Linked DNA regions of Homo sapiens. The protein of the gene in region 3 purifies or fractionates together with the protein of the main gene of each other region. This does not show direct contact. Each region holds a gene or a part of one and is shown on either strand. Other genes may lie near its edges.

Region 1 (3,500 bases), on a different chromosome or scaffold from region 3:
CACTCTTCAACCTGCTGCAGGAGTACCCTGATGACCGCACTGCCCGCACCCTCACCCTCATCGCCAAGGTCACCCAGAACCTGGCCAACTTTGCCAAGTGAGTGCCTCCTCCCTCACCAGGCAGAGTTGGGCAGGGCTGGTGTCCACAGGGCAGGCCCTGGGGGTGTTTCTGCCCCCAAGCTGAGCAGAGACCATAAACAGGCCCTGGTTTTGTCCCTGTCATCCTCAGTCCTTCTCCTTCCCGCTTTTTAAAAAATAAAATCTCCACACCCTGTCCTTCTACTCAAGGTATATGTCATTTTGGTATGTTTCTTAATTTTTAAAGGTGACGACATGAGACATTTTTTTCCTTCTGCTTTTTTGAATTAATGTATTATTATAAGGATTCTCACATATCCCTTAACATTCATTAAGCCCTGTTTTGAAATAAATGACTAATATTCCTCCAAGGGGGACTGGCCCATATTTCCTTAATCCATTCCCTGTGCTTGGGCACTTGGGTTGGGCACCACCATCCTGGTGTCAGGCTATCAGGATGTCTTTGCTGATAAAGCACTATTGGTGTTTTTGGCTGCATCCTTAGAGCAAGTGGGCAGAAGTAGAAGGGCTGGGTCGTCTCACTGTTGTTCATTCTCAAAACATAGATTGAGCCCCATCCTGGGGCCATCTGTGTGCTGGGCTCTGACGGCACCAAGATGAATCAGTCCTGGTGGCGCTCAGCACTTCAGCCAGGGAGACGTGTGGAATGAGCAGGAGAGCAGTGATAGACACACACGAGCCTCTTAGGAGGGCTCTCAGCTTGTTGGGAGAGGAGACAGGAAAGCCTCCAGGGTGACATGATCCCCCAACTGCATGTCAGGGTGAGGCGTTCATTGTCTCAAGAGGAGCAGAGGCTGGGCATCCCAGGGAGGGCCATGCACTGTGCCAGGTCAGGAGAAGCGGGCGATGAGACCTAAGAGGACAGCAGGGACCTGAAGGCCAGACAGGGCTGTGGGAGCCACCAGAGGGTTTTAAACAAGGGAGAGGATGGCCTTCCTCTGTTCTGGATCCTGAAAAGCTCACCCTGACAGCAGTGGGCAGATGGGTTGGAGGGAGCAGGATGGTAGCCAGGAGACGTGAAAGGAGAGCATAGCTGTGGTTCCAGCAACAATAGCAGAAAATTCGCAGGGAGGGGAGCGGGTACAGGAGGCAGTGGCTGCAAGGGACAAGGTTAGGGGTGATTAGAAGGCAAAATCAGTGGGCCGTGCCATTTGGGAATGAGGAAGAGGGAGGAGTTGACAGCTGCCAGAGATTCTGTCTCAGGTGTATCTGTATGGGTAGTGGGGTCTCCACTTAGGGTAGGGAGCTCAGGAGGAGGGCATGGGTTTGGGTGTTGATGATGACTTCAGGTGTGGCAGGCTGAGTAGGAGGGACTCCCAGGGGTGGTGCCTGCAGATATATTAATACATGCCTGAAAGCTCATTGGGAGACCTGGGTTGAGCAGGGATTGAGCATCATCTGCATACCAGGGCAGTGAAACTTGGAGGAAAAGCCGAAGGACACTGTTAACAGGCAGTGTATGGGGGACACAGAACATTCCAGGTCCTGAGATAAAAGGTTCAGAAAAGGATCGCTGGACTTACCATGAGCAAGGAGGGCCCTGGTGACCTGGGTCAGAGCATATTCAGCTGACTTGGGGAGTGAATGGAGTGGGAGCCTGCCATAGTGGGGAAAGCGGGTGGTGGTGTCCCAGTGGAGGGAGTTCCTGGGCAGGGCCTGCCTGGGCCCAGTAGTGCTCACCCAACTGCCCTCTCTCCAGATTTGGCAGCAAGGAGGAATACATGTCCTTCATGAACCAGTTCCTAGAGCATGAGTGGACCAACATGCAGCGCTTCCTGCTGGAGATCTCCAACCCCGAGACCCTCTCCAATACAGCCGGCTTCGAGGGCTACATCGACCTGGGCCGCGAGCTCTCCAGCCTGCACTCACTGCTCTGGGAGGCCGTCAGCCAGCTGGAGCAGGTGCCTGTTGCCGTGGGGCGGAGGTGGGGCCAAAAGCTGCCATCAGGCTTTTAGTGTTCCCCCTTCCAGAGTAACCATGGAGGGCAGAGAGTTTGCCCAAGTGGCATGATCAGGCCAGGTCCTGTCAGAACACACTGGGGATCTGTGGGCCCCATTTTCTCTGTGGGCAAATGCTATGTTCACTCAGCAGTATCTGCCAAGGCTGCCCCACTCTGGGTACTAGAGCTGGGGTGTTCCGCATGCACTCAGCCTTTAGTGGACAAGCGCCACTGTGCTGCCTGCCAGAGCATGTGAGAAATAGAATTGGATCGTGAATCCGCCTGTATGAAGAAGATGACTCAAGACCCTGTACCTCCACTTGTCCAGCAGGAAGTCGAAAACCTTTCTAGGATTGCCCTTGACCATCAGTTGACAAGGTTACTCCCTAGACACCTCTGACACTGCTGCAGTCACCTGAAGTGAGCCCTCCCTAGCCCGAGACTTCACTGACCCCCAGCCTCAGCCCACACAGTGAGCAACTAGTTCTTGGACTTAAGGGCTGGGTCTACCAGGAACTACTTCCCGAATATCTGTTGCTTTCTAGGGCTCCAAGGGACCACCTTACTTTTGTAAGGTGCTGAAACTGGCCTGGAAGGCCCTTCATGCCTCCTGGTCCCATTCCCTAGAGGTGACCGCTCAGAGCACTGGTATGCAGCCTTCTGGACACGATCTGTGCATGTGTAAGCGCACACACACATGCAGGCGCACACACATAGAGCTCTTTTCCTTCTTCAGTTTGTTTTAAAGCAAGAACATACTGTGTATGCTGCTGTGTGCATTTCTTACCACTGTGTTGTGGGCCTCTTTGCTTGTCAGTGCAATCTCCACCACCCCCAGGGACTTTTTAATGACTGCATTGTATGAATGCTATTTATTTCACCAGTCCCCTATTGATGGACACTTAGGTTAGTCCTGACTTTTCACTAGAAATAGGTCCTGTTGCAATCAAAGGCCATCATTTTTGCTCATTTGTATCCACTTGCCTTTGGCTGTGAGAGACACAGGAGGGAGAAATGGAAATGAGGGCTGAGACCCTACATTCCACCTGTTCCAGTCCCTGCACTGCAGCCAACACTAGTCACTGTCACTGCCACCACTTACCTTTCCCCTGTGCTGTCCACGTATCTGCACAACCAGGCAGGAAGAATGGAAGGTGATCAGTATTGTCACATCGGTGATAGGGTGCAACAGGGATTTGAAACTCAACTGTTTGCCTCTCAATTGCGTGCTCTATTGCCTGCATGAGTTTTCACACTTTGTTTTCTCACAGAGACCTCTGTGGAAGCTTGTGCATAAACAGGTGAAGGCAGTGTCCCCAAAGCCTAGAATCCTCTGCCCCTTAAGTTCTCTAAAGCGTGCCAGCAAGGTTCAGATGGGTTCAGGCACTGCCTTCTGCCTGACCAGCACCTGAGGGTGCCTGCAGTGTGCTTGGACCATCTCCACTGGGGCTCAGGTGCCAAG
Region 2 (3,500 bases), on a different chromosome or scaffold from region 3:
ACAATGTGTAAAATGTTTGATTTTAATACAGTATGCAAAGTATATTTACGATATTTTATTTAAAAGCTTTATTGGTCCAAGATCATATTACTTGGGCTTGAGATGTGTGAACGTATGAGCTACTGAATTTTTTTTTTTGAGACAGAGTTTTCCTCTTGTCGCCGAGGCTGGAGTGCAATGGCGTGATCTCGGCTCACTGCAGCCTCCACCTCCTGGGTTCAGGTGATGATTCTCCTGCCTCAGCCTCCTGAGTAGCTGGGATTACAGGTGCCCGCCACCACGCCCAGCTGATTTTTGTATTTTTAGTAGAGATGGGGTTTCACCATGTTGGCCAGGCTGGTCTCGAACTCCTGACCTCAGGTGATCCACCTGCCTCAGCCTCCCAAAGTGCTGGGATCACAGGCAGGAGCCACTGTGCCTGGCTGAGCTTTTGATCTTTAACCAGTGTGATACAACATTTGTTTCTGTGCTTTTCAAGAAATCCTGTCTCATGGTAACCTGGGTGTTGATCTCGTGCTTTAGTTAGTAGCTTCTCCAAGGAGAAGGCGTGTTGAGGTTTAGTTGGAAAAATGGGCTTCTTTGATGGGTCTCACAGTTTTGGTGAGCCGGGATAGCTTGATAGGGTTTTGTTTTTTTTTTTTTTGAGTCAGAGCCTTGCTCTGTCACCCAGGCTGGAGTGCAGTGGCACAATCTGGGCTCACTGCAACCTCTGCCTCCTGGGTTCAAGCGATTCTCTTGCCTCAGCATCCTGAGTAGCTGGGATTACAGGCATGCACCACCATGCCTGGTTAATTTTTTTTATTTTTAGTAGAGACAGGGTTTCTCCATGTTGGCCAGGCTGGGTCTCGAACTCCTGACCTCCAGTGATCTGCCTGTCTTGGTGTTCCAAAGTGCTAGGATTACAGGCATGAGCCACCACGCCCAACCAGCTTGATAGTTTTTGTTTATTCAACAAATATTGAGCACCTGCTGTATGCTAGGCATTGTGCAAGGTGTTAGGGCTGATGCTTGAGCACAGTACCTCCACATCTGCAGTATGGGGAGAGAGAGATGATACCGTGATGAGATCTGTATTAGAGCTGTGACAAGGTGCTGTGGGAACACAGGATTTGTTACATATTCTTAATTTCTTTGGCCACTTAAACAGTTTACTTTTGTGGCACTTTAGAGTGGCTGTGCCCCTGGACGTTGTATACTGAAGTTACATTTACAAATGTAAACTCTCTGATCTAGGTGAAGTAGCTTCAAATAGAAGTGAGCAATATATTTGAATACTAAATTGATCTCTAAATGACCTCTGATGTGTCTTTTTAACTTGAAGATTGAGCATAAGGCTAATGTCCAGATCTGTCTGTTTAAATGGTCCCCCCACCCCCGCCTCCCGTAAGTCAGTAAGTTTGTATTCAAATTTTACATAGTTAAGCTCACTGATCTTTGGATTAGGGTTGTTGTTCTGTTTTTAGGTTCGTGATGGCTGTATTCAAGTATACTTTTGATGGAGTAGGGCATAAGTGATAAGAATGAGTGACATTCAACATGTTGCTGTCTAGACCCAACTTAAAGTCATGTAACTAAGGTATCAGAAAACTTTAATACAGTAACCTATCTGTTTAATAGGAAATTCTACCTTTAACATAGAAAGAAGTTCTCTGTACAGAAAAAGAAATTTACCTATTTCCAGTTTTTTTGTTTGTTTTTGAGAGGGTCTCACTCTCTAGCCTAGGCTGGAGTGCAGTGGCACGATCTCGGCTCACCTCAACCTCCATCTCCCAGTCTCAAGCAATTCTCCTGCCTCAGCCTATAGATAGCTGGGATTACAGGCGTGCGCCACTACCACCCTGTTAATTTTTGTATTTTTAGTAGAGATGGGGTTTTACCATGTTGGACAGGTTGGTCTTGAACTCCTGACCTCAAATGATCCACCTGCCTCTGCCTCCCAGAGTGTTGGGATTACAGGCATGAGCCACTGCACCCAGCTTTATTTCCAGTTGTTTTTATTCCATTAGTTGTTTTTTTTTTGAGACAGAGTTTTGCTCTGTCAACCAGGCTGGAGTGCAGTAGCACAATCTCGGCGCACTGCAATCTCTGCCTCCCGGGTTCAAGCTATTCTCCTGCCTCAGCCTCCTGAGTAGCTGGGACTATAGGCACCTGCTACCATGCCCAGCTAATTTTTGTATTTTTAGTAGATGGGGTTTCACCATATTGGCCAGGCTGATCTCGAACTCCCGACCTTGTGATGTGCCTGCCTCGGCCTCCCAAAGTGCTGGGATTATAGGTGTGAGCCACTGTGCCCAGCTTAAGTAGTCGTATGTTACTTTGATATTTCCAGTCACGGTAAGTATATTGATTACAATGAATTTGTTATTTGAGGACTAGCAGGAGAGTATTTTTTTTTTCCATAACAAAGAAACTTGAAGAAAAAAATTAATTCTGTAGTTTGCAGAGCCGGGAAAAGAAAATCTCCATTTCGTATGACTTCTTTTTTTTTTGAGACAGAGATTCACTCTTGTTGCCCAGGCTGGAGTGCAGTGGCGCGATCTCAGCTCACTGCAACCTCCGCTTCCTGGGTTCAAGCAATTCTCGTGCCTCAGCCTCCCGAGTAGCTGGGATTACAGGCACGTGCCACCATACCCGGCTAATTTTTTGTATTTTTAGTAGAGATGGAGTTTCACCGTGTTGGCCAGGCTGGTCTCGAAATCCTGACCTCAGGTGATCCACCCGCCTCAGCCTCCCGAAGTGCTGGGATTATAGGTGTGAGCCATCGCGCCCAGCCTTTGTATTACTTCTTTTACCAGTAAGACATCGTACCTCTCAGACTATTGATTTGAAATGGGGGTGTGGAGGGGATGATGATACTGGGAGAAAAGGGTGCTTTTGGAAAAACTCCTCTCCCTGGCTTTGAATTCTCATTTTGGATCATTATTTCCCAATAAGAATATCACTGTGTTAGGGCCAGGCACGGTGGCTCACGCCTGTAATCCCAGCACTTTGGGAGGCTAAAGCAGGCAGATCACGAGGTCAGGAGATCGAGACCATCCTGGCTAACACGGTGAAACCCCATCTCTATTAAAAAATACAAAAAATTAGCTGAGCTTGGTGGTGGGTGCCTGTAATCCCAGCTACCTGGGAGGCTGAGGCAGGAGAATGGCTGAGCCCGGGAGGCGGGGCTTGCAGTGAGCCTGGGCGACAGAGCAAGGCTCCGTCTCAAAAAACAAAACAAAACAAAAAAAGAATATCACTGTGTTGATGACAGCTTTGTTTTTCAAAGATCAAAAAAGATTTCAGCCCCTGCAGCTCCAAATAAGAGAGCAGAGTGACTTCCCTGTGATGGTGCCATCTAGTGGGACTGGTTCAGCCTCTTGGGCTGTCTCTTGAATTTCTCCTAACTATTCATAACATTTTTCAGTACTTTTTGATGTCCATAGAAGGAAGAAAGTCAGTGCCACTGTGGATTCTTTCCTAGTGGACAAGAGTGTTACAAGTAGCTACAGCCTTTGAAC
Region 3 (4,218 bases):
CTTTCAGCATCAAAAAAGGAAACGTTCTGCATGCCCATATCCAGAAAAATCCCCACTCGCTGTAACTTGCGGTCTACTAAGAGGAAAGTCAGCGGCACCGTGCTGGCAGAGAGGCGGCTTCCATCCCTCAAACTCACAGTCCAGAATCCAAGCTCTGTGGTCAGCTGGATCTTCCCTTTGCAGTGAACAGATTCTCTGCAGACTCCCAGGTCCCATTCTGTGCTTGTTCCCACGTCCACCTCCCAGTAGTGGCGGCCACAGGTAAAGCGAGGGGAGCCCAGGATGCAAACGGACACGTCAAATCTCTCGGCAAGGTCTTGCCGATTCTGTGTGATGAGCCCACTTCGGACGCTCCTGAGGTCGTCAGAAATGAGGAGGAAGTTGTTGGCTGTGTCGGCATCCAAGGTCATATCCACTGTGAAAAGGAAAACAAGTTGCTCAGCAAGTGGACAGAAGCCAACCCCATGCCTCTCTTCTACTTCAAAGGCCCAAATATCTCCTGACTTTAGTTTCTTTAATTCTGTTTCTTCCTCCAAAATCAAAACTTTTCATGAGGAAACTTCCCTATTTCAAATTTTCATAGGTATGCTTTGTGGCAATACGTGACTCTTATTCACAGTAGCAATTCTTATTTTACTTTACGTCACGTGTTTGCTTCACTGAACTTTTCTTCATTTAGAGTGGAGGGTCTCTGAAGGCAGACACCATGCCCCCCTTTCTACCACCTTGATGTGTGAACAAATAAATGATAATTAAGACAATGCAAGTGGTCAATATTAAATATGTTTCTGCTTCCACATTTTATTGCTCCAATTCAGTATATAGAGCATGATTCCAGGCTTTTGTTTTCCATGTTTGTAAACAAATTAATTGTGCACAGTTCTGACAGCAGATAGGGTATCTCTGCAGCTGACAATGTGATGACAGAGATGCTGGTCCTGGACATTAGGAGGCTCTAAGGCCAGGTGGAGGAGGGGGACCTTTTAGATGAAAGAATGTTTTCTATCCTACATGGAAGGTGAGACCTTAAGCAAAACAATGGTAAATTTTGGAGCCAAGAGAAAGGTATTTGAAAGTTGTCTGTCATAACTGACTGATTGTAGAGAATAAGGGCAGAAAATACAAAGGTCAATAATTTAAGGCATTGGGTATGTGACTGACAGGTGAAGCCGCCAATTCTCATGGAGGAGGCAGTGTGATCTGGCCTAGAGAAAATTAATTGTCCAGAACATTCTGAAAAAAAAAAATCTACAAAATATATTATCCTTCAAGTCAAAAAACTGATATGATCACTAATATAGATTTTATAGATCACAGTAAGACTACCCTAGTCAAGACTAGGGATTGATTGCTATTTAATGGTGAATTAGGGAATGGACATGGACAAGGAAGGAGGAAGAGGGTTCCAAACATGACTTGGACAGGGTGAATCTCTGTCCTCCATAGTTCAGCAGAGAGACAGTCAGGTATGGGTAGATGGATGAGTAGAGATCATGGGTGTCAGGGCAGAAGCTACCAGTGTCAGGGACATTATAGGGGCCCACCACCATTTATAGGTGTAATTCTTTGCCCAGGCTGACCATAACCTTTTCATTTAAATGTCCCTTTTCCCCAGAGTTATGGAGAGTGATAGTATTTTCTGTAGCCAGGACCACTGTTGGAGCCCATGGCGCATGGATGAGGAGACCAATATCTGCAACTCTCCCCACTCACAGAAACAAACACCATAGGTGCTCCATTCCCAACTCTTCTCAACCCTGGGGTGAGGTTGTTTGGTACAATGGGTGCCAATATTCACTGTGCATTAGAAATACCAGGCCCATCTTAATGTCAGATTCATGGGAACCTTTGCTAGAGAGAAATTCAAATTCAGTTGCTCTATGTTTTTGCTACTCAGCAAAGTCCCCAAGCCAGCGGGATCAATCCTGAGACTTCCCAGTTCAGCATCTGCATTTTAACAAGATCCCCAGGTAATCTGAGCACACTAAGTTTAGAGAATCCCTTGTCTAACCCATGACATAGACATCGGGTTTTTGTTTGTTTTTGTTTTTGACATCACCAGGTGATTCTATGTGTTGTCAGGGCTGAGAATGTGATGATGAAGCATCTCAATTTTAGGTGCCAGACAGCAGCTAATCCCCATGTGGAATGAGGGGCCAACTGCACAGATGATTTTTCCTGGTCTGGTCTTGGGAAGGGGGCAGGGTATACAGATTCCTTACCTTGGAACTTCCGCATCCTTGGGTTCATCTGTAGAATCTTCTTCAGCTTGGGCTCCAGTTCCTTGATGTGGGAAACCAGCCTCTCTAGCTGCCGATTGGGCCTGATTTTGTTCCTCTGAGAGACCATGGAACAGCAACAGCAAAGCAGATCCTCCCCATGGGGCTCCTTCTGCAGCGAATTGATGCACTTGAGGCAGACGGTGCATCCACACTCCAGGGACATTGGTTTTTCCAGATAGTCTGAGCAGACGGGACAGCTGCTTGCTTCTTGGAAGAGTGCAGCCATGTCCACTGCCAGGGGAAAAGTACACAAGGGAAGAAAATTTCCTTGAGGTGAAAGCCTGTTAGTTGTGACAAGTGACAACCTTTTCATGCATAGAGGTATTGTGTTCCAGCTTTGTCACTCCGAGAACAAGACCATGAGTACAAACACTCAAGCACATCCCCCCACCCCCCGTCCTCAGAGATTTGAAGTTCTATTGGGAAAGTCACGAATCATCACTGTGCTCTGAGCTGAGGTGGAGGAAGGGTCCATTCTCCTGGTGACCCAGCAGCTGAGCCTGAGCCAGTGACGTGGCAGCACCCATGTGAGGAACAGCGAGCTGGGGTCATTTCACCACCTCCTAGGGGAACCCCAGCAAGAGACTGATTGATGAACATAAGAATTAGGAGCTGAGAGGCTGGGCACGATGGCTCATGCCTGTAATCCCAGCACTTCGGGAGGCCAAGGTGGGTGGATCATCTGAGGTCATCAAAAGTTCGAGACCAGCCTGATGGGTGAAACCCCATCTCTACTGAAAATACAAAAGAATTAGCCAGGCGTGGTGGCACACGCCTGTAATCCCAGATACTTGGGAGGCTTTGGCAGGAGAATCGCTTGAACCTGGGAGGCAGAAGTTGCACTGAGCCAAGATTGTGCCATTGCACTCCGGCCTGGGCAACAGAGTGAGACACCATCTCAAAAAAAAAAAAGGGGGCTGGATGCAGTAGCTCACATCTGTAATCCCAGCACTTTGCGAGGCCAAGGCAGGAAGATCCCTTGAGCCCAGGAATTTGAGACGAGTCTGGACAACACAGGAAGACCTCATCTCTACAAACAATACAAAAATTAGCAGTGAGCAGAGACCACGCCAGGTCACTCCAACCTGGACAACACAGTAAGACCCTGTCTCACCAAAAGAAAAGAAAAGAAAAAAAATTACATCCTTCTCCAGCCTTGGAAATGAATACCAAATTAACTGCCACCACTGGTGGGCAGGGGACAGGCTCGGAGGTTCCCTGAATGACAGAGAGTTGTTTTAGGAACCTCATGTCACACCCTTCTGAGACACTGTGGACCATGTCTGAGGGGTCCTACACTGGCACTGAGGGGGCCTGACCCCTCTTCATACACTGAGGTCAGGGGGCTCCCAGGTACACAACAGGATGCTGACCTCCTGCCGCTCGCCCACCCACAGGCCAGCCCAAGGCCACCCCCTTGGTCACTCTGTTCCCGTCCTCCTCTGAGGAGCTCCAAGCCAAAAGGCCACACTGCTGTGTCTCATGAGTGGCTTCTACCCGGGAGCTGTGACGGTGGCCTGGAAGGCAAACAGCACCCCTGTCACCCAGGGTACGGAAGTCACCAAGACCTCCAAACAGAGCAACAAGCACACAGCCAGAAGCGACCTGAGCCTGACACCCGACCAGTGGAGGTCCTGCAGCAGCTACAGCTGTAAGGTCACACACAAGAGAGCACTGTGGAGAAGACAGTGGCCCCTGAAGAATGTTCTTAGGTCCCTGACCCTCACCCCACCCATGGGGGCCTGGAGCTGCAGGATCCCAGAACAGAGATCCCCTCCCACCCCAAATCATCCAGCCCCTCTCCTTGTACCAGTAAACCCTTAATAAATATCCTCACCGTCAACCAGAAATCCTGCTCCCTCTCTTCATTTCTTAGCTAACATATAATTTGACACTCACCCTGGGTTCTTAGTGTGTGTAAGGGGGGATTACTTGC

What was found. The genes of interacting proteins can lie anywhere in the genome.
Region 1: the proteins of RFPL3 (region 3) and DAB2IP purify together in Homo sapiens (affinity purification with mass spectrometry; 3 studies listed by BioGRID and IntAct, with this or other methods). This does not show direct contact.
Region 2: the proteins of RFPL3 (region 3) and TLK2 purify together in Homo sapiens (affinity purification with mass spectrometry; 3 studies listed by BioGRID and IntAct, with this or other methods). This does not show direct contact.

What each region holds. Positions count from the first base shown.
Region 1 is NC_000009.12:121,766,634-121,770,133, forward strand, and holds part of DAB2IP (disabled homolog 2-interacting protein), read left to right. Parts: coding exon 1-97; intron 98-1,798; coding exon 1,799-2,000; intron 2,001-3,500. UniProt on the Homo sapiens protein: Functions as a scaffold protein implicated in the regulation of a large spectrum of both general and specialized signaling pathways.
Region 2 is NC_000017.11:62,481,825-62,485,324, forward strand, and holds part of TLK2 (serine/threonine-protein kinase tousled-like 2), read left to right. Parts: intron 1-3,500. UniProt on the Homo sapiens protein: Serine/threonine-protein kinase involved in the process of chromatin assembly and probably also DNA replication, transcription, repair, and chromosome segregation. Phosphorylates the chromatin assembly factors ASF1A and ASF1B.
Region 3 is NC_000022.11:32,356,449-32,360,666, reverse strand, and holds the start of RFPL3 (ret finger protein-like 3), read right to left. Parts: upstream 2,801-4,218; 5' UTR 2,596-2,800; coding exon 2,223-2,595; intron 762-2,222; exon of another isoform or gene 416-761; coding exon 1-415.